4 separate regions of the Homo sapiens genome follow, and all the other regions are linked to region 3. Evidence: fine-mapped expression QTL. A gene starts in region 3. Each other region holds a variant in brackets. All regions are shown on one strand. Distances are from middle to middle. Region 1 has its middle 28 kb from the start of FHL2. Region 2 overlaps FHL2 (four and a half LIM domains 2). Region 3 holds the start of FHL2 (four and a half LIM domains 2). Region 4 overlaps UXS1 (UDP-glucuronate decarboxylase 1).

Region 1 (5,148 bases), 28 kb after region 3:
GCTAATATCCAGAATCTACAAGAACTTAAACAAATTTACAAGAAAAAACAAACAACCCCATCAAAAAGTGGGCAAAGGATATGAACAGACGCTTCTCAAAAGAAGACATTTATGCAGCCAACAGACACATGAAAAAATGCTCATCATCACTGGCCATCAGAGAAACGCAAATCAAAACCACAACGAGATACCATCTCATGCCAGTTAGAATGCTGATCATTAAAAAGTCAGGAAACAACAGATGCTGGAGAGGATGTGGAGAAATAGGAGCACTTTTACATTGTTGGTGGGAGTGTAAATTAGTTCAACCATTGTGGAAGACAGTGTGGCTATTCCTCAAGGATCTAGAACTAGAATTACCATTTCACCCAGCAATCCCATTACTGGGTATATACCCAAAGGATTATAAATCATTCTGCTATAAAGATACATGCACACATATGTTTATTGTGGCACTGTTCACAATAGCAAAGACTTGGAACCAACCCAAATGCCCATCAATGATAGACTGGGTAAAGAAAAAGTGGCACATATACACCATGGAATACTATGCAGCCATAAAAAGGATAAGTTCATGTCCTTTGCAGGGAAATGGATGAAGCTGGAACATTCTCAGCAAGCTAACACAGGAACAGAAAACCAAACACCACATGTTCTCACTCATAAGTGGGAGTTGAACAATGAGAACACATGGACACACGGAGGGGAACATCACACACCAGGACCTGTCAGGGAGTGGGGGCCTGGGAGAGGGATAGCATTAGGAGAAATACCTAATGTAGATGATGGATTGATGGTTGCAGCAAACCACCGTGGCACATGTGTACCTATGTAACAAACCTGCACATTCCGTACATGTACCCCAGAACTTAAAGTATATATATATTGTAGGGAAAAGAAAGAGAGATCAGACTGTCACTGTGTCTATGTAGAAAGGGAAGACATAAGAGACTCCATTTTGAAAAAGACCTGTACTTTAAACAATTGCTTTGCTGAGATGTTGTTAATTTGTAGCTTTGCCCCAGCCACTTTGCCTCAGCCACTTTGACCCAACTTGGAGCTCACAAAAACATGTGTTGTATAAAATCAAGGTTTTAAGGGACCTAGGGCTGTGCAGGACGTGCCTTGTTAACAAAATATTTACAAGCAGTATACTTGGTAAAGGTCATTGCCATTCTCTAGTCTCAATAAACCAGGGGCACAATGCACTGCAGAAAGCCGCAGGGAACTCTGCCCTTGAAAGCAGGGTATTGTCCAAGGTTTCTCCCCATGTGATAGTCTGAAATATGGCCTTGTGGGATGAGAAAGACCTGACTGTCCCCCAGCCCAACACCCGTAAAGGGTCTGTGCTGAGGTGGATTAGTAAAAGAGGAAAGCCTCTTGCAGTTGAGATGGAGGAAGGCCACTGTCTCCTGCTTGCCCCTGGGAACTGAATGTCTCGGTGTAAAACCCGATTGTACATTTGTTCAACTCTGAGATAGGAGAAAAGCTGCCCTGTGGCGGGAGACGAGACATGTTTGCAGTAATACTGCCTTGTTATTCTTTACTCCACTGAGATGTTTGGGTGGAGAGAAACATAAATCTGGCTTACGTGCACGTCCAGTCATAGTACCTTCCCTTGAACCTAATTATGACATAGATTCTTTTGCTCACATGTTTTTTGCTGACCTTCTCCTTATTATCACGCTGCTCTCCTACTACATTCCTTTTTGCTGAAATAATGAAAATAATAATCAATAAAAACTGAGGGAATTCAGAGGCCGGTGCCGGTGCAGGTCCTTGGTGTGCTGAGCGCCGGTCCCCTGGGCCCACTATTGTTTCTCTATACTTTGTCTCTCTGTCTTATTTCTTTTCTCAGTCTCTCGTCCCACCCAACTAGAAATACCCACAGGTGTGGAGGGGCAGGCCACTCCTTCATATATAATATAGATGTATTTGGTATTTGCTTCCTCTTCGGCAATGTAATGGCCACACTATGTCATCATCGGGGGTGTCTTTCTATCTTGCATGCAAGCTTTTACCCGGTGCATTTGTCAAAGTGCTCTTAGCTCTTGGAAAAACAGGTTCTCTGCTGCCATAAGGAAGTGAGAAGAAAAGAACTTTCCAGCTTTCTAAAAGGCAATGTGCATTCTGTCTTAGCCACTTCCCATCACCCCCAGCCCCACTAGGAAAAGTCAGTATTCATTTTTGACGTATAAAAGTAATTGCATCTATGTTACCTTAACCAGGCTCCATAATTCAAGTCAAAAGTAACCAAAAGCAGAATGAAAAACACATGGTAAAGAATGGAAACAGCATGGTCTAT[C/T]AAAATACCTTTGCAGTTTGCTTTTATCTCTCCTTCCAGACATCCTGCCTAGGGTCGCTCTCTTCTGCTCTGCACCAGGGTCACCCTCCTCCCTTCCCTGAGCCAGCAGTCCTGGAAGGCAGCCTTTGATGTGAGGGCTCCCCACTCCTGCACCTACCTTCTGCAAAATTACAGGAAGAGGCTAGAAGCCCCTGTGCTGCTGCAAAGACCCCGAAACAATGCAGAAGGGGGGCCAGGCACTCAGGCGGAGATATTTTCCACTTATGTTGTGGCACAGAAGGGAGGTGCATGAGAACACACGCACAGCAACACCCAGCACTCCCACACTTAGGCACAAATAGTGCTGGGGTGCAGATGCTGCCGAGGAGGTGTGGGGTTGCTGAGAATTAGCCGGGTTGCTTTGAAGCTTCTCAGAGATCTCTACTCACATGGCCCTTATCACTCCTTGGTGAATGGTGCAAGGTTTTGGCTTTTTCTTTCTTTTCCTTTTTCGATAAAGACTTATGTTGATAGAACTGATCAAATAGGAAGGCATTTCGTTGGCTCTAGCCTAAAGGATCAAACTAAGCCATCTGCAGAGAATGGAGGATGCCTGAGAGGGGTGTGTAGGAGTAAGAGAGCCGCCCTTGGCACTGTAAGAATCCAGGCGAAAGGAAAAAGAAAACCTGCAAAGATGGTTTATAGCAGGGGACTGCAAATTTTGGTGGCTGCCCACACCAGGAAGTACATTTTTTACATCATAACCACATCAATCACCCTCACATTTAATGCTAGAAAAATATACTGTCATGAAAAAATTCTGGAAAGAATTTCTTACTATGTGAAAAGCATTCTATTCCCTTTAATTCTATTTTTTCCTGCTCTAGTCAATTTCATTTTGTTGTTAAAAATATGCTGATCTCAATCCACTGAACTGATTTCATGACCCATGATATGCACTATGAAACTCACCCGGAGCTTGAAACACTTCTGTTTCAGTGAAGTCTGGACAAGAGAGAGTGTCTTGTGAACATGTGGAGAGGGCAGCAGAAAAGCACCTCAATTTAGAACAATGTCACAAAAGAAAAGTGAGCTCCGGGGCTTGGGGGATGGAGGTGCAACTCTCAAATGTCAATAATCAATAGGATAAACGTGTCCCTGACTTTCGAACAGAGGCCCTTGTGAGGGAGTTACATCATTGGTCTGCCTCAAAAGAAACTTTATTCAGCATTTCTTGTCTTGCATGTGAAAGGAATGAGAGTGTTTGAGGTTGCAGGCAAGCATTTAGATGTTGAATAATCCCTCTAAACCATTGTGCTTACAGCTAAGGCAGCTTCACTAGGCCCTGGGTGCCTGGGTGTGAGGCTTTGGGCTCAGAGAAGGGACCCCCTCTGACAGGGCCCCGAGAACCAGCAGTTACACCTGTGGACCTCACATACTTATTAAAAGTGCTCTCAAAAGTGCCTCAGTTTGGACCATAAATTCAATAGTCACTCTAAGTATGAATAACTGAGGAAAGTATGTCTAGAGTATGCAGTCTACTTTATTCTTATTGCTTTGTCACAAAAACACACAGCCCATGTAAATTCACCTCTGATTTCTAACACTGTGATGCTCACATTAAGCAAAGGATCAAAGCAACTGGGTACCAGGTAAGTAATCCTGTTCTGAGAACTCATGGTCATAAAAGGTCTCAGTCAACTAGAAGCCTGCTGAGGGTGGCCCCTAGTCTTTCCCACCTGGAGGAACAAAGGTCCTTTTAGATTCCAGTCCTGGAGGCCCTGAGCCACCCCCAAGTGAGTGGAGGTATGCGTATATGTGTAAGGGCGGCCCGTGCCACCCATAGGTGAGGTCTGGACATAGCTCAGCTGACACAGATTTGGGAGCCAGGGGCTTGCTGAGCTGTGAACACCCCATCTTCCCCAAACTACAGCTCATCTCCAGCTTCTAGTTTCCCTGCAACCCCACTTCTTTTGTACCCAAATAATTCTCATGTCCTGTTGACTTGCTCCCTCCCTGGTGGATCAAACCTGGCTGGTTTGCTGGGCCTTGGAATTACCTTCGGGATCTTTCCATCCCTGAGAGGTTGGGCTCCTCATAGGCCGCCAGCCTGACTCGGAGGACCGTCTACTACCCTCTCCTGCGGACAGGCCCGCCCATGGCTGCCCCATGACCATGCTTGCCCTGTCCCTTGGCTTCGTGTGGGTCAGCTTGTTCTGCCACCTTGCTAGGCTGGTTCCTGGAGCTTCTATCTGTTGTGGCCTGGGTTGCCACGCTCTCCCTGGTCACCTGTGTGCCCGGACCCTGTGTCCCTCACTGGAGCACTCTGAGCTAGGCCGCCTCAGCTCTTCCTTACCTGCTCCTCTTACTGTGGGGATCCTGCTTCCAGGTCTGCCCTTGGCGGCTGCTCTGTACTCTGTACAGACACCCTGTTGGATGGGAGGCATGTCATGGCCTGTCCCCATGCTAGGCTTTCATTTTTACTTTGTAACCTACTTTTATCAAACGTCTGTGGTTGCTTAAAAGTCAATAATATATTTGGAGATGGGGTGAGATGGATTGTTTTAAACCTTACCTTCATAAGATAAAACAATGTTGAAAGTTAACTGTGAGCCTTTGGCGTCCTATACTGCAGAGGAGAAGGGCAGAAGGGGATGACCTGTCCTGTTTAATGTGGCATACAAAACCTGAATCTGGGATCCAGAGGTTTCCACCCTCCCTCCACTGCCACAAGGGGGAAAAAGGACTTAATAAACACCAAAGACTTTGCCCCACAATATGATGGTCAAGAAATCGGCTGGGAGTCAAATCGCAGTTCTGCCTCTTAGTAATTGGTAGCAAAATGATGGTCTCCCAAAATGTGC
Region 2 (5,135 bases), 25 kb before region 3:
ATCTAATCGGTAGTGGGCCTTAGGGGCAAAGACTAAGGTTTCCCTAAGGGCAACTAATTCTTCTCAAGACTGCAATAGACACACCCTGCCTGAGTTTCCAGCCTGCCGCCCTACGGAATTCAAATGCTCCCATTTGGAACTGCAGTATCATCTCTTCCCTGAGCCTCCAGCCTGCTGCCCTGTTCTATAGATTCCAGACTTACCGCCTCCACAATCTCATGAGCCAATCCCTTGAAATCTCTCTCTCTCTCTCTCTCTCTCTCTCTCCTTATGTATGTATCTATGTGTATACATTTCCTTGATTGATTCTGTTTCTCTGGAGAACGTGACTAACACAGAAAGTCAAGACAGGTGAAAAATTCAAAATCCGGGAAATATGCATACTTTTTATGTCATGGTTGGTGCTAACAGTTAAAGTCTTTAAACAGCCCCTAGAGTCCCCAGTGGAAGCTTCCTTGGGCCCTTGTTCAGGAAACTAGTAAGGGTTTAATTTGTTTTTCAATTAATGTCGTGGTTCTTATTGTTACTGAGTGTTGTGTCTCTGCAGTGACTCCCTGTGGGGCAGGACACAGGTCAGCCTGGCTTTCTACGGGCTTCAATTCTCATTTGCACTGTCGCACAGCACTGGGGCCCGAGTTTCCAGCCTCTGCAGGATCCACATGATCTTAGAAGAGGCCTTCTTGCCTGGAGCTGCCCCATCTAAAGTCACCATGCAGCCCTTCCAGCTGTTTTCCCTTACAGCTGCCAACAGGGCTGGGACTGTGTCAGCCTGGGCATTTTTCTTCCCTGTCATAGTGTGTCACAGTTGTTTTAAAGTTATATTAACCAGAGAAATGTAGTGGCAGTAAGAAACCATCTTACCAAAGGTCAGATTACCTCCTTGCCTTTTTAAAAAATGATTATTCCTTATCCTACATAACTTTCTTTTTTTTTTGAGACGGAGTCTCACTCTGTCACCCAGGCTGGAGTGCAGTGGCGTGATCTCAGCTCACTGCAAGCTCCATCTCCTGGGTTCAGGCCATTCTCCTGCCTCAGCCTCCCGAGTAGCTGGGACTACAGACGCCCGCCACTATGCCCGGCTAATTTTTTGTATTTTTAGTAGAGACAGCGTTTTACCATGTTAGCCTGGCTGGTCTCAAACTCCTGACCTCGTGATCCGCCCTCCTTAGCCTTGCAAAGTGCTGGGATTACAGGGGTGAGCCACCACACCTGGCATCCTACATATATTTCTAAACTATTTCCCATATGTCAGTCTCTTCAGTATTTCTTTATTATCAAAAACAAAGCAAACCAACATGATGAAACCCCATCTCTACTAAAAATACAAAAATTAGCCAGGTGTGGTGGTGCACGCCTGTAGTCTCAGCTACTTAGGAGGCTAAGGCAGAAGAATCTCTTGAACCTGGGAGGCAGAGGTTGCAGTGAGTCAAGATTGCACCACTGAACCACATTGGCCAGGCCGATTTCAAACTCCTGACCTCAAGTGATCCACCCACCTCAGCCTCCCAAAGTACTGGAATTACAGGTATAAGCCACCGCACCCAGCTTCTTTCTGTATTTTGAAATTCCACATATTTTTGTCCACTTTGCTTTTTAAAATAAAAGATTCTGCTCTCCTACATAAAAAACAAAACAAAACAAATAACTCCCCCCACATACACACACAAAAAAACCATGAGGGACACAGTCCCATCAACACACAAGGCACCTTTATTGCCATCCTCGGCACCTGGCCCAGTTGCGGCTGTGCCCTTTTTGACTGTCCGTCTAGAACACCAACTCTACAAGGGCAGAGGACCAGGTGCACCTCGGCTCACACCCTACGAATGCTCAGCTCGAGCCCAGTGCCTGGCACGCAAGGGCACCATGCACACTTGGTGAAATAACTGAATGAGTACAAATTCAGCAGGTAGAAGGGAAGAAAAGAGAAACTATCTATGGTGGTGGGAGAGTGGGGGCTGATGCAGGAGATGTATTTTTAAGGGGGATACCCACCATTTTCTTACTCTAACAATTTGACTGCATAACACTGCCCCACGTGCACAGCAAAAAGATCCCGTTACTGCCCATGATAGAACCTGTATGTCCCTGCTTCGTAAGTACTCTAAATACTCCTCTGCAGTTCAAGGTCAAACTGGAAAGTCAACACGAGTGTCTGGAACCAAGTCAATGTGAACAGGGGGTCAGAGGAACGTGCACAAGGCTTGAAGCTAGACTGGCTCACGCATGAGAAAGGAGTGCCTCCTGACCTGGCATGATGGTCTTCTTGCATTCCTGGCACTTGGATGAGTACTCGTTGGAATAGCAGTCTGTACAGAGCAGCTGGTCCTCCTTGGCAGCAAAGGGCTTGTCCACCAGTGAGTTTCTGCACTGCGAGCAGTGGAAACAGGCTTCATGCCAGTGCCGGTCCTTGTAAGACAAGTCCTGTGGGGCCAGACCACACAAGACAGTCAGAGGCAGGACAGGAGGGCTTGGACCCACAGCATAGGGGCCCCTTGCGAATCTGCAGGGCAAACAAGGAAAGAAGTTGGGCCGAGGCACCCTGGCGCACCCACATTCATGCCCCAGGACCACCTAACTGCTGAAATCAATTAAGACTAGGCTGCTTTTCTCTTGCTGCATTTTAGAGCAACAGGTTAGACAGATGTGCATGTATGCACATGTCTGTGTGTGAGAGATGCTTCTAAAAAACAAAGGGATTTCCCTTATGTATTGCCTGCAAGAAAGAGAAACAGAAAACATGAACACCTATCAATTCGTCTCACACCACATCCGGTGACAGAGAAACAGACTGCAGGA[C/T]ATCCTTGGCTGAGGGAGCCCTGCCCAACTCAGATCACTGTGGTCACCGGCATGGCAGAGAGGCTCTGGGTGTCGGGATGTTCACAGGAGGCCCAAGGACTGTTTGGTGGGAGACGGTCAGGAGAGACTGTGTGTGTGGGTGCTACCTCTGTGGGTGGCCGTGAGCTGGGGGAGGAAGGGAATTTCAGGCAGAGAAAGAGCACAGACACAGAAGATCTGGGGACGGGGGGCATGTCAGATTGGAGGGACCACAGGCCAGGGGCGAGGTGGGAGGGCCCCCCGGCCTGGCTGGACTGGAAGATATGGCTGCCTTTTTGCCTTTTATGTCTGTGTAGAGATTCCATTGATCCTGAAGGCAGTGGACAGCTGCTTTTCAACAGGAGAGTGAAGTGCTCAGACTGGGGGACGGGTAAGGATGTGGGAGTGGAGGGGCGTGAGGGTGGGAGAAGTGAGACAAAAACTGAGCACACATGAGAGAGGCCCTGAGAAGACAGACGTGTGCTTTTGAGTAAAAGATGAGGGAGAGAAAGGAGCCCCGCAGAAAACTCGACTCCACACTTGGCTTCATCTTGCCTGAGGAATAAGAGAACCCTCCATATTTGCCTTTTAAAAATGACATACGGCATTTTTAAAGTGCCAACACAAAATTAAAATAACAATCTCTTTATGCCCAGCTTTATCTTAGAAAGGATATGTTTCTATTGCTGTCTTTGTGTTCCCAGCTCTGACCCCAAATCATCATCCATTTATACATGAGGCAGAAACAGAGTATTAGGCTCTGCACGGTTTCCTGGGCAGGCTTCCAGTTGGTAGGTATCCTGAACAGGGCACAGGAGGGCTGTTCACGCGATGGCCCTGAAGAAGAGCCTGCCCACGATGTCTCTGTTACTGAAACCGAAGTCGAAGCTGGAGTTATGCTGAATGTAGGATGTGAAGACATGGATCTTGGCCTTGATTAGAAAGTCCTAAAACACCAGCTAACTCGGAACCAAAACTAGAACAAACAGTTCTCTTTTGCTGAAGTATGTGTGTGTGTGTGTGTGTGTGTGTGCGCGTGCGTGTGCACATGTGTGCATGTATGTGTGTTTTCCCGGAACCTGGAACCAAACTAGTTATTTGATTTAGTGATCTCTTTGCGCATTTTGTTTTAGTTCAAGGAATTTTAAAAATGTGAACGCTGAGACACTTTGAAGACAGTCATGACTATGGCCTTTGTGAGGGGTGACCTCTTGTGCTATCCCTGTTGGAAGTTTGCTTCCTAGAACATCTGGGAATAGGATTATTGCTGACGCAAGACGATAAAGAATGAAGGAGAGGTCAGGAGTTCAAGACAAGCCTGGCCAACATGGCGAAACCCTATCTCCACTAAAAATACAAACATTAGCCGGGCGTGGTGGTGCATGCCTTTAGTCCCAGCTACTTGGGAAGCTGAGGCAGGAGAATCGCTTGAACCTGGGAGGTGGAGGTTGCACAGCCTTGGTGACAGAAGGAGACTCAGTCTCAAAACAAAAGGAATGAAGGTGAGAGGAGCATAGAGTGCTCTCAAAGCTGGACTAAATGCCCTTGTTTCTGCGGAATTCATTCTCACCTGAGCCCAGCACCTCTGGGTATTGTGGGTCCCCTGGGGTAGGCACTGCCTGTCAGGGGGACTCGGGGGCAGGTTGCTGAAATGCCCAAGCCCTCTTCATCCTTGAGAACCCAAACTGGGTATGCACTGGGAGTTGGGGGCAGAGGGCTAACCTGTCTTTTGTATTTTTAGCTTAAAGTATTTTCAGAAATCTGAGGGGAACATCACCTGTGCTTTATTGGTTATTTTGACAAGTGAAATAGAGGACAAACTGCTTTGATTTGAGTTGATGTCTACACATGTGAACTCATGAGAAACAGCAAAGCCCACAATCCACATGGACATCATCATCGTTCGGGAACAGGCATGGTCTCCATTCTTTCCATGCACACGCCCCGGCTTCAAAAAGACATCTGAAACACTAGTGATGACCATCATTACCCCATCTGTGAGCTCCAGGCACGGCACAGCCCTGCAAGGTAAATGTTATTACTGAAGGTCAGAGAAGTTCCGTAACTTGCCCAGTCACATACCTGGCACGGAGCTAAGCCAAGCTTCGAGCTCAAGTCCTCCTGATGCGAAAGTTATTTCCACTGAACCAGCCCAGGCAAAATCCTGGTCGGGTCTGTGTTACTCTTTGCTTTCAAAACAGATAGCCTTGAGGAGATGTGTGTGTGTGTTCATTTAAAAAAATCCAGAAACGACCAAACTCTGGCAACTTTCTAGAACATATTTTGTACCTAAATGAATGTGGCTCAGTATTGCCTTT
Region 3 (5,148 bases):
GACAGTTGGTGGGGAGACTTTTTAAATAGATGTTACCAGAGAGCTGTAATAGTCAGGGTTTTCTAGAAAAATAGAACCAACAAGAGATGTACATAGAGAGATTTATCGCAATGATTTAGCTCACACAATTACGAAGGTGAAAAAGTCCCAAGACCTGCAGTCAGTAGGCTGGAGACCCAGGAGAGCCGATGGTGCAAATTGCAGTCTGAAAAGAGGAGACTCTATAGACCCAAGAAGAGCCGATGTTTCAGTGTGAGTCCAAAGGCGGAAAGGACCAATGTCCCAGCTCAAGCAGTCCGGCAGGGGGGCTTCCCTCTTACTCAGTTTTTTTGTTCTATTCAGGCCTTCAACTGTTTGGACAAGGCCCACTCACATTATGGAGAGCAGCCTGCTTTACTCAGTCTACCCATTCATATGTCAATCTCATCCAAAAACACCCTCCCAGACACACCCAGAACATATGACTGAATGTTTGGGCACCGCATGGCCCAGTCAAGTTGACACATGAAAGTAACCATCACAGTAGCTAAAACTGAAATCCACAATTTAGGATAACAGAGGAAATTCACTTGACTCACCCCAAAGTCAAAATGCCAGCCTAGTCTCCAGGAAGACACAGTTCTCAGCCACTAGAGAAAGCACACGTGTTTTGTTTCAGATGGTCATCTTGAGGAAGCGAACTCAGTATAATGCAACTTGAGATGGACACTTAATAAATGTGGCTTTGATCAAATTCTCATAATAAAACCGCACAGAAGAACCCAATGTCTAATGTTTCCATTCACCCAAGCTCAAGGAACTTTGTACCTCAGGGCATCTGAGTCAGAGAGCCGCTTAGCGACTCAGGCCCGGTGCTGACAAAGGAGGCTGCCTGAGTCACTGAGGCTGAGTAACTGGCCCTCGGCACAGGACAGGAGTAAACTACTCCTGATATCTAGTCTGTTTTTTTTTTTTTTTTTTTTTGGCAATATTCTATTGGGCGTTTTTGACTGCAATTTAAATATCTTTCAGTACTGGAAATGGTTTAACACGCAATCTTGGGTCAAAGTATGCATCATAAGGCCTCATAGAAATATTCAAATGTTAAAAAAAATAAATAAATATTCAAATGTTCCTCCCGTGGTGCGTTTAGTGGTTAGAACTCAGGTTCTCCAGTTAAGCTGCCTGGGGTCAGATCTCAGGGCTACCATTTACAGCCCGGGAAACCCTGAGTTAAAGTTACTTTGATCTCTGTTTTCAGTGTCTTTACCTGTAAAAATGAGGCTATCAAATATGTATACACTGTCTATGATGTCCAGGCTTCTTAACAACCCTAACAAAAAGACAACATCATTGTCCCTGTTTCCCAGTGGAGAAAACCGAGACACTACGAGATTAAGTGACTTGGCCCAGGCTGCACAGGTTGAGGGACCCGGATGTAAATTTAGGCAGCCTACATGCAGTCCCCGGCATCCCCTAGCCTACTGCATCTGCCTGTGGCTATTTGTGAGACGGTGAGCTAAAATGAGACAGAACCTATGTGCCCAGAACAGTTTCTGGTCTGTAGTAAGCCCATCATTAGCCTTCATCGACATGTTATGGTGTAAACGCATTTTAAACCATGGCAGGCTAATAAACACCGTGGAAACACAATTCTGTGTATTAACTGATGATCTTCTAAACTGGGGGGTGATCTAAATCCAGTAACACTTGACAAAATTTTATATAAATGCACAATGAAATGTTCTTTGAGTTTGGTTTTATTAAAGTTTAATTGATAGACTAGGAATTCCTGTACTTCTAAGACTTGATGCAAATGGTTTTTGTTTTTTTGTTTTTTGTTTTTTTTTGTCTAAAACATCTTCAGGATAGTGCAAAACCTCTTTTCTTTAATATATTATTATAAAACACTCATTAGTAGAGTCAGCACCAAAAATGTGAGATGTATTGGGAGTTGTGTTTTGAAGACAGTTCTCCTGATTCTAAACCCAAATTGTGATTTATTACCTTCCAAAATATGTGGAAGGGAGTGCGGGCCTTAAGTTCAGTGATGTCTAAGTACACTGCTGCTTGCAAGCCAGCTACACATTTCAGCTAACCGGATTAGCCTACTTCCAGTTAAAACCCGACTGAGGATATGAAAATAAATATGACTGATTCATTTAAAATCAGAAAAACACTCAATATTTTCTTCCCTCTATTTCTGGTATGCTAAGATATCACACGAGTGCGACTTAAGAAAAACTTAGAATCTTTTCATTTAAAATAAGCCATTTTTGTTTTAACCGAATGGTTCAGTTATTAAATGTCTACCTGAGTCAAGGAGCGAGGTCACACTGCAAACTCCACTTATTTCTACTAAAGGGAAATGGCCCGGACTCCCCCGCGCAGACCACCGTGCCAGGACAGCCCGCTCGGGAGTCGGGCCTGGAAGCAGGCGGACAGCGTCACCTCCCCGCAGCCGCCGGCTGGGACCCGCGGCCAGCCTTTACCCAGGCTCGCCCGGTCCCTGCCCGCATGGCGGTGCCCCACCTGGTGAGGACGCGGGCTGCAGTCCTCCCTCTGGGGATGAGTCGGTGGGCTCCTCTGAGCTCCAGCGCCCCCAGGGTCTAGACCCCTCCCATTGCTCCGCTCCCCTCTCCCCGTGGTCTCCCCACCCCCAACCCCCAGGGTTCGGCTCTCCTCTCCCGGGTCTACCCCACAGCTCAACTCCTTTCTCCCGGCTTCTCCCCGCACGGTTCGGGTCCCCTCTCCCAGTGGTCTTCCCGGACCCACAGCTCTGCTCTCCTCTCACCAGTCTCCCCAACTCCGGCTCTGCTCCCCTCTCCTTGGGTCTCGCACCGGATTCGGCCCCCACTTCCGAGCCCTGGTGGCTAAGCCCCTCGGCCTCCCTCCGGGGCGCAGGGGGTTGGAGGTACTCACGGCACCGCAGCGGGCCGGGGACTCCCGGACGGGGCTGGAGGGCGCGGGCGGCTGGTGGCTGCGGCTCCGCTGCCGGCCGAGTGGAGCGCTGCGCAGCTCCCGCCCTCGAGAAACCCCGCCGTGTCATTTGACCATATAAGGAGATGCACGCCTCGGCTCGCTGGCACCGGGCGTGGGGCGCGGGGGGCGGGCGCCCCCAGGCCTCGCGGTTGCCGTGCCCCCGCCCCGGGCTGCGGCGGTCCCGGCCCGTACCCTTTGTTTGCCAGGGCTCCTTTCTTCGTGCCCTCCGGGTCTTGGGAGCACAGTAGTTATCGGGAGCGTCGCCTCCGGCGTGGGCTCTCGGGCGCGAGTTTCGGACGAGGCCTGGGCGCGGTGGCAGGGGTCTGCCCACGCCGGGATCTCTGCCTGGTCCCAGGAGCGGGAGACTGGAGAAGCCCCAGGACGTGCCGGGGGAGGCGGAGGGAGGAGGGGGTCACTTCTCAGGAGGCATGTGCCTGGGATATATTTGCAAGGTGGACGTTTTTCCTTCTTACCCTGCAGATGCTTCTTTACGAAATGAACACCACAGATGACCATAAAGAATCCTTCGTTCCACTACGGAGGGGACTAAAGGAAGGTCCTATCCCCACCTCTCCCTCTCGGGGCCAGAAGACTAGTTAGACATCTTGGATTCCCCTCCAGGGCGGGAAAACCAAAGTGAGCTGGGAGCGTGCCTCCCACATTCCAAGCCCGGGCCCTCTGCGTGACGCTGACGCTGGGTAGGGACAGATGGCACTGTTCAGCATTGTCGCAGGGAGAGCACAGGTTGAGCCCATCCCTGGGAGAGGGTGCGTCGTGATGGAAACATTTGCTCCTGAGCAGGTAACCGGTCCACTTGCAGAAACCGGTGGACGATGAGTAGGTGGACCACAAAGGCGTCCTCGGCACTTTGGGGGCAGGTGTATTATTTTTAACATTCGGGGCAGCTCATAGGAATACATCCTCCAGAGAAGGCGGGAAGAACTCCGTGATTGCTTTCTTTTAATTGATACTCTCCGTCTGGTAGGCCTCATGGGTCTCCATCATGGAATCACAGAACTTGAGAATAAAGGGGCTTCATCACCTTAGCTTCCACTCGGTGAGCACTAGCTCTACCTGGTATCTCATTTGATCCACACTCCTTTAAGGTAAAGATTTTTACCAGATTTACGGTGAGGAAAGTTCAGCTCAGATTTGCTCCAGGCCACGTGAACGGTAACTGTGCCAGCTGAGATTTGAACTGGGATGTGGTAGATGGCAAAGCCATGTAAGTATATTACGGGATCAGAAATGCCTCTCATCCCTCAGTCACTCAGGTGACTCCAGAGGACTGAGACTTGCCATAAGCCCAGCCAGAACTAGATGTGCGGAATACAGCCCTCCCCCGACCCCACCCCACTGTGTCCCTGAAACAGGACGCTTTCCTGAAGAACCTGAGTTAAGGCCACCCTACCTGAATTTCCACTAAGTGTCAAGACAGGCTAGTATTTTGAAATTCAGAGCAAAGTTTGTGTAGAAAAGGCTCCCAGCCCCTGACAGCTACCTAGATGTGTTGTTGATATCGTTACAAATTAGGAAATGGTCTCCTAGTTCTCAAATGGTGAGTCTTAAGCTTCAGTTTGTAAAAACAAGCCCTAAAATGATGAAACATTAATTCTGCATTTATCTTCTTTCTGATTCCTTTTGTCTTATATTTTAATTTTTTTTTTTTTTTTAGCTTTCTGACTTACGGGTGTAATCCATTTAGCTTTGCTTTTTTACTGATAGAGTTATTTAGTTCTGTTATTTTTCTTCTAATAACTGCTTTAGCTGTGTCACATAGGTTCAGCTATGTTGTGTTTTATTATTAAGAAATTCTGCAATTTAATTTTGTGTTTAATTTTTGACCTAATGGGTAGCAGAACATTTTAAATGACCCTGTGGTCATTCGATAGGGTCAGTAAAATCCGGACTCTGGAAACAAACATACCCAGTTTCTACAACAACGATGCACAAAGAAAAACAAGAGAGATGGAGACAGAACCAAGAGATTAAAAAAAGACTTAGCCAACTGCCATGTATGGATCTTATTGGATTCTTTTTTTTTTTTTTTTTTGGATCTTATTGGATTCTAATCAAAGAATAAACTAGTAGAAAATCAATTTTTATGAGACAACCTTGGAAAATATGACACTGACAGGATATTTTCTAGTATTAATGAACAATTTATGTTAGGGGTGATAATGTGAT
Region 4 (5,148 bases), 740 kb after region 3:
ACACCAACAACAGACAAACAGAGAGCCAAATCATGAGTGAACTCCCATTCACAATTGCTTCAAAGAGAATAAAATACCTAGGAATCCAACTTACAAGGGATGTGAAGGACCTCTTCAAGGAGAACTACAAACCACTGCTCAAGGAAATAAAAGAGGACACAAACAAATGGAAGAACATTCCATGCTCATGGGTAGGAAGAATCAATATCGTGAAAATGGCCATACTGCCCAAGGTAATTTACAGATTCAATGCCATCCCCATCAAGCTACCAATGACTTTCTTCACAGAATTGGAAAAAACTACTTTAAAGTTCATATGGAACCAAAAAAGAGCCCACATCGCCAAGTCAATCCTAAGCCAAAAGAACAAAGCTGGAGGCATCACACTACCTGACTTCAAACTATACTACAAGGCTACAGTAACCAAAACAGCATGGTACTGGTACCAAAACAGAGATATAGATCAATGGAACAGAACAGAGCCCTCAGAAATAATGCCGCATATCTACAACTATCTGATCTTTGACAAACCTGAGAAAAACAAGCAATGGGGAAAGGATTCCCTATTTAATAAATGGTGCTGGGAAAACTGGCTAGCCATATGTAGAAAGCTGAAACTGGATCCCTTCCTTACACCTTATACAAAAATCAATTCAAGATGGATTAAAGATTTAAACGTTAGACCTAAAACCATAAAAACCCTAGAAGAAAACCTAGGCATTACCATTCAGGACATAGGCGTGGGCAAGGACTTCATGTCCAAAACACCAAAAGCAATGGCAACAAAAGCCAAAATTGACAAATGGGATCTAATTAAACTAAAGAGCTTCTGCACAGCAAAAGAAACTACCATCAGAGTGAACAGGCAACTTACAACATGGGAGAAAATTTTCGCAACCTACTCATCTGACAAAGGGCTAATATCCAGAATCTACAGTGAACTCAAACAAATTTACAAGAAAAAAACAAACAACCCCATCAAAAAGTGGGCGAAGGACATGAACAGACACTTCTCAAAAGAAGACATTTATGCAGCCAAAAAACACATGAAAAAATGCTCATCATCACTGGCCATCAGAGAAATGCAAATCAAAACCACTATGAGATATCATCTCACACCAGTTAGAATGGCAATCATTAAAAAGTCAGGAAACAACAGGTGCTGGAGAGGATGTGGAGAAATAGGAACACTTTTACACTGTTGGTGGGACTGTAAACTAGTTCAACCATGGTGGAAGTCAGTGTGGCGATTCCTCAGGGATCTAGAACTAGAAACACCATTTGACCCAGCCATCCCATTACTGGGTATATACCCAAATGACTATAAATCATGCTGCTATAAAGACACATGCACACGTATGTTTATTGCGGCATTATTCACAATAGCAAAGACTTGGAACCAACCCAAATGTCCAACAATGATAGACTGGATTAAGAAAATGTGGCACATATACACCATGGAATACTATGCAGCCATAAAAAATGATGAGTTCATGTCCTTTGTAGGGACATGGATGAAATTGGAAACCATCATTCTCAGTAAACTATCGCAAGAACAAAAAACCAAACACCGCATATTCTCACTCATAGGTGGGAATTGAACAATGAGATCACATGGACACAGGAAGGGGAATATCACACTCTGGGGACTGTGGTGGGGTCGGGGGAGGGGGGAGGGATAGCATTGGGAGATATACCTAATGCTAGATGACACGTTAGTGGGTGCAGCGCACCAGCATGGCACATGTATACATATGTAACTAACCTGCACAATGTGCACATGTACCCTAAAACTTAAAGTATAATAATAATAATAAAAAAAGAAAAAAAAAAAGAATGGAGAAGTCAAGAACACACACAAAAAAAAAAAAAAAAAAAAAGAAAGCCAAGTCTGAAAACCAGTGAGTTAATTTAGAAATAGAACCAATGCTTATGGGAAGAATAATCTTTTTGTAAAGAGAACTAACAAAACACAAAATCTTTAAAATTATTGATGGTCTGTCAAAATGCAAGTTCGCTGAGAGGATCTGTCCAAGTAAAAGGAAATCCTGCGACTGCTGTTCCCACCCCCACAAGTTATTCTGAGCTGAAAAACAGCTAAAAATAAAAGACAAACTAATATTGTATTATACAAATTGTAATTTAACAAGATACCTTTTAAAAATCAGTTCTCACAAAGTCCCATAATTCTAAGGCCAAGCTATCTTTTGCAGTTTCCAGCTAGGATCAGCACAGACCGGGTCAGTTCCTGCTACACCTACTTCCAAGCTCCAGGGCTGCAGGTAGAAGCAGCAGACCATTAGCCCCAGAAACAGGCACTGTGCTGCCTCCTCTGAAGATTCCTCCTCATACCCACTGCCACTTTGGAGCAGGACTGTGCCAAGTTGAAAACCAAATGAGGGCCAGGCACAATGGCTCACACCTGTAATCCTAGCACTTTGGGAGGCCGAGGTGGGTGGATCACCTGAGGTCAGGAGTTCGAATCCAGCCTGGCCAACATGGTGAAACCCGTCTCTACTAAAAATATAAAAAAAAAAAAATAGCTAGGTGTGGTGGCAGGCACCTGTAATCCCAGCTACTTGGGAAGGTGAGGCAGGAGAATCACTTGAACCTGGGAGGCAGAGGTTGCAGTGAACCAAGATGGCACCATTGCACCGCAGCATGGACAACAAGAGCAAAACTCCGTCTCAAAAAAATAAATAAAATTTAAAAATTAAAATTAAAATTTTAAAAAATGAACCTGGCCAGACCTTCAGAGCCGAGTACGACACCACAGAGCC[C/T]GCTCAGGTGTGCTAGACCTGGAGCCTGCTGCCACCTGACTTATACTCACGGGCATTTCTGCTTACACAGACAGGGTCACCCTACATTCCTCAAAGAGAGTATAAACAACTCTGTATGGGCTGTGATCTTACACAACAAATTATTCATCATTATCTTTACTCTTGAGGTGACAAGGTATGCAGGGAAAGACAGGAAACTGCATTAAAGGCTAAGAGGGAAGAAGTGTGCCTTGAGAGTACAGGAAGCCTCTCCGACATCAAACAGAAAGCCACTATCATTAACCTCACACTCTTCCCTCCTCGTCGTCTGCTCCAGTCCTGGCTTTCTTCTTCAAAGCTCAATCCAGACGTCAGTCTGTATGGGAAACCTTCTCACCATCCTTGGTCAGAAATAATCCCTTGCCTGCACCACTAGTCCACAACAGCTCAGCGCTGCCTTGTCCAGAGATTCACACATGCCTTCCTCACTAGACGATGAGCTCACTGAGCACAAGATGCAGGCCTTTCCCTTCCTGATGCTCTCCACAGTGTGGACTCTAGAGGGAGGGGAGGCCCCCTCGGTCACCCACAAATGCAGACTCCTGAGCCCACTGCAGGTCTCACCCTTCAGGATTTCCAGGCGGGCCTGGAAACCTTCCATTTACAACAAATACCCCTCCACGGTGCTCTGGCCCAGGCCAGTTTGGGAACAGGGCTCCACAAAAGTTAGCTGAGAGAAGAGATGAGCGTAAACTGGGGTTTTTCCATCCCCAAAGGCCATTCCATCTGGTTCAGTGTTTCTTCCTCACTGGACAGGTCAGTCCCACTGCTGCTCCGGAAGGCTGAGGGCCGCCCCATCAGACTGTCGAGACGTTCAGTTAAGTAGCGGCACTGCTGCATCCTCCCATTTGAGAGGAAACTGAAAACCCTATGAAAATCAAAGTTTCCCACCACCCCCCTCTCCTTTGAGAATGTGTTCTTCCTGTAACATTAACAATAACTCCAGTTCCTATCCTAAAAAGGGCACTGCAGCAGAGTCTGTTGGTTAAATAATCTGGTGAGAAATTCTGAAGGGGAGAGAAGAGGGGAAATTCAGAGCAGGGACAAATAACCAGCAATGAGAGGTGCTAGGTAAACAGTAAGTAACATTAATAACAACCGGCTTCGGAATATAAATAAAGCAGCAAGGTTAACCCTCACAGCCCAGGACAAAGGCCCTGGGAACATGTCAACTGCACAGTTCAGAGTACACCAAGCATGAGCCTGACGTTCCAAAATCCAAGCTGAGGTGGGGAGAGGAAGTCAAAGGGGGACAGAAAGGCAGCCCATTCATGGGTGCCCACAGTTGCTCCAGAGACCGCTAGAGACCCTGCCACGACCTTTCACATTTACAAGGCCACGTGCTGGGAGCTCAGCTAGAAAAATAGAAGTCTCAAGAAATGAGCCTAAAAGAGCTCCAATTAATGATCAGCAGCATTCCTACCAGAGAGCATGCAGGGTAATCTTATGTTGGGAAGTGGCTGGGTGAGGGCACAGCTGCGACTTACTCGGCCCTTCTATGAATCCTGACTGGGGAAACTCAACCAGTCAAACCACAAATGAACTCCCTAAAGGGTCTTAGGTTGAATTTCACTGTGCCCAAAACCCACATAAATGACACATACATAGGGAAGAAAAAAATCACCATAGGAGGAGAACAACTCGGGATAACCTGAAACCACTGTTCAGAACACATCGGAGAAATCGACATTTTCTTCTACCAAAGGGGAAATCCACATAAAAACTGACTGTAGCTTCCACTCCTTTGTTGATTTTCTTTTTTAATTTTGTCTTAAGTTAGTGACATAGTCTGTGTCAAGCCTCATTCTGTGCCACACCCATGCTGTATGAAACTGCCAAGGACCAGTTCAGGATTTGTACCATGAAACTAAAGACTATAGAAACACTAAAACGCAAAACAGTGGGTTAGTTCTTTCTGTGATAACTCACGCGATTATTTAGCACATACTAAATTCCCATCATAAAAGATACTTACAGTAGAATTCTCTTTTTCTACACTTGAGTCAGAGGTCTTACAGAAATACTCCCCAACGAGATGTCCCTCTCTGCAATGTGAAGTCTCACAGCATGGCCCTAGTCTTTGTCTCTAGAACCAGTATTTAGGATGGAAAACAGGAATGAAGAAGATACAGAACTTCTCAAAGTATAAAGACCAAATTTCTCTCGGCACAAAGAAGCAGAACAGCAAGATTTTCCCTTCATTTCATGTCAAATGTATTTACTTAGGGCAAAGGCTGCACACACTAGAGACTGGCTCAGCCCCCGGGAGCTGGGGTTGCCCGCCAGTGCTGTCGACTGTTCTGAGCGAGGGGCTCACCTTCCCTGTGAA

What was found.
Region 1: its variant is fine-mapped to the expression of FHL2 in whole blood (INTERVAL, PIP above 0.99).
Region 2: its variant is fine-mapped to the expression of FHL2 in whole blood (TOPMed, PIP above 0.99).
Region 4: its variant is fine-mapped to the expression of FHL2 in ileum (CEDAR, PIP 0.95).

The regions. Positions count from the first base shown.
Region 1 is chr2:105,424,140-105,429,287 of GRCh38, forward strand. It overlaps a transcript of FHL2 not described here. Among named protein-coding and RNA genes, the nearest start is that of FHL2, 28 kb to the left of the region's middle. RefSeq lists an enhancer at 3,270-3,771. The variant C/T (reference allele first, on the strand shown) is at 2,306.
Region 2 is chr2:105,371,310-105,376,444 of GRCh38, forward strand. FHL2 (four and a half LIM domains 2) reads right to left here. Exons shown (of 7, transcript NM_001318895.3): 4 at 2,250-2,424. It also overlaps a transcript of C2orf49 not described here. Among named protein-coding and RNA genes, the nearest start is that of FHL2, 25 kb to the right of the region's middle. RefSeq lists an enhancer at 2,586-2,865. The variant C/T (reference allele first, on the strand shown) is at 2,800.
Region 3 is chr2:105,396,069-105,401,216 of GRCh38, forward strand. It overlaps FHL2 (four and a half LIM domains 2), which reads right to left and starts at 2,983. Exons shown (of 7, transcript NM_001318895.3): 1 at 2,774-2,983; 2 at 579-629. RefSeq lists silencers at 2,717-2,936, 2,957-3,086 and an enhancer at 2,764-3,586.
Region 4 is chr2:106,135,107-106,140,254 of GRCh38, forward strand. The region is part of intron 6 of UXS1 (UDP-glucuronate decarboxylase 1); the gene reads right to left. Among named protein-coding and RNA genes, the nearest start is that of UXS1, 57 kb to the right of the region's middle. The variant C/T (reference allele first, on the strand shown) is at 2,781.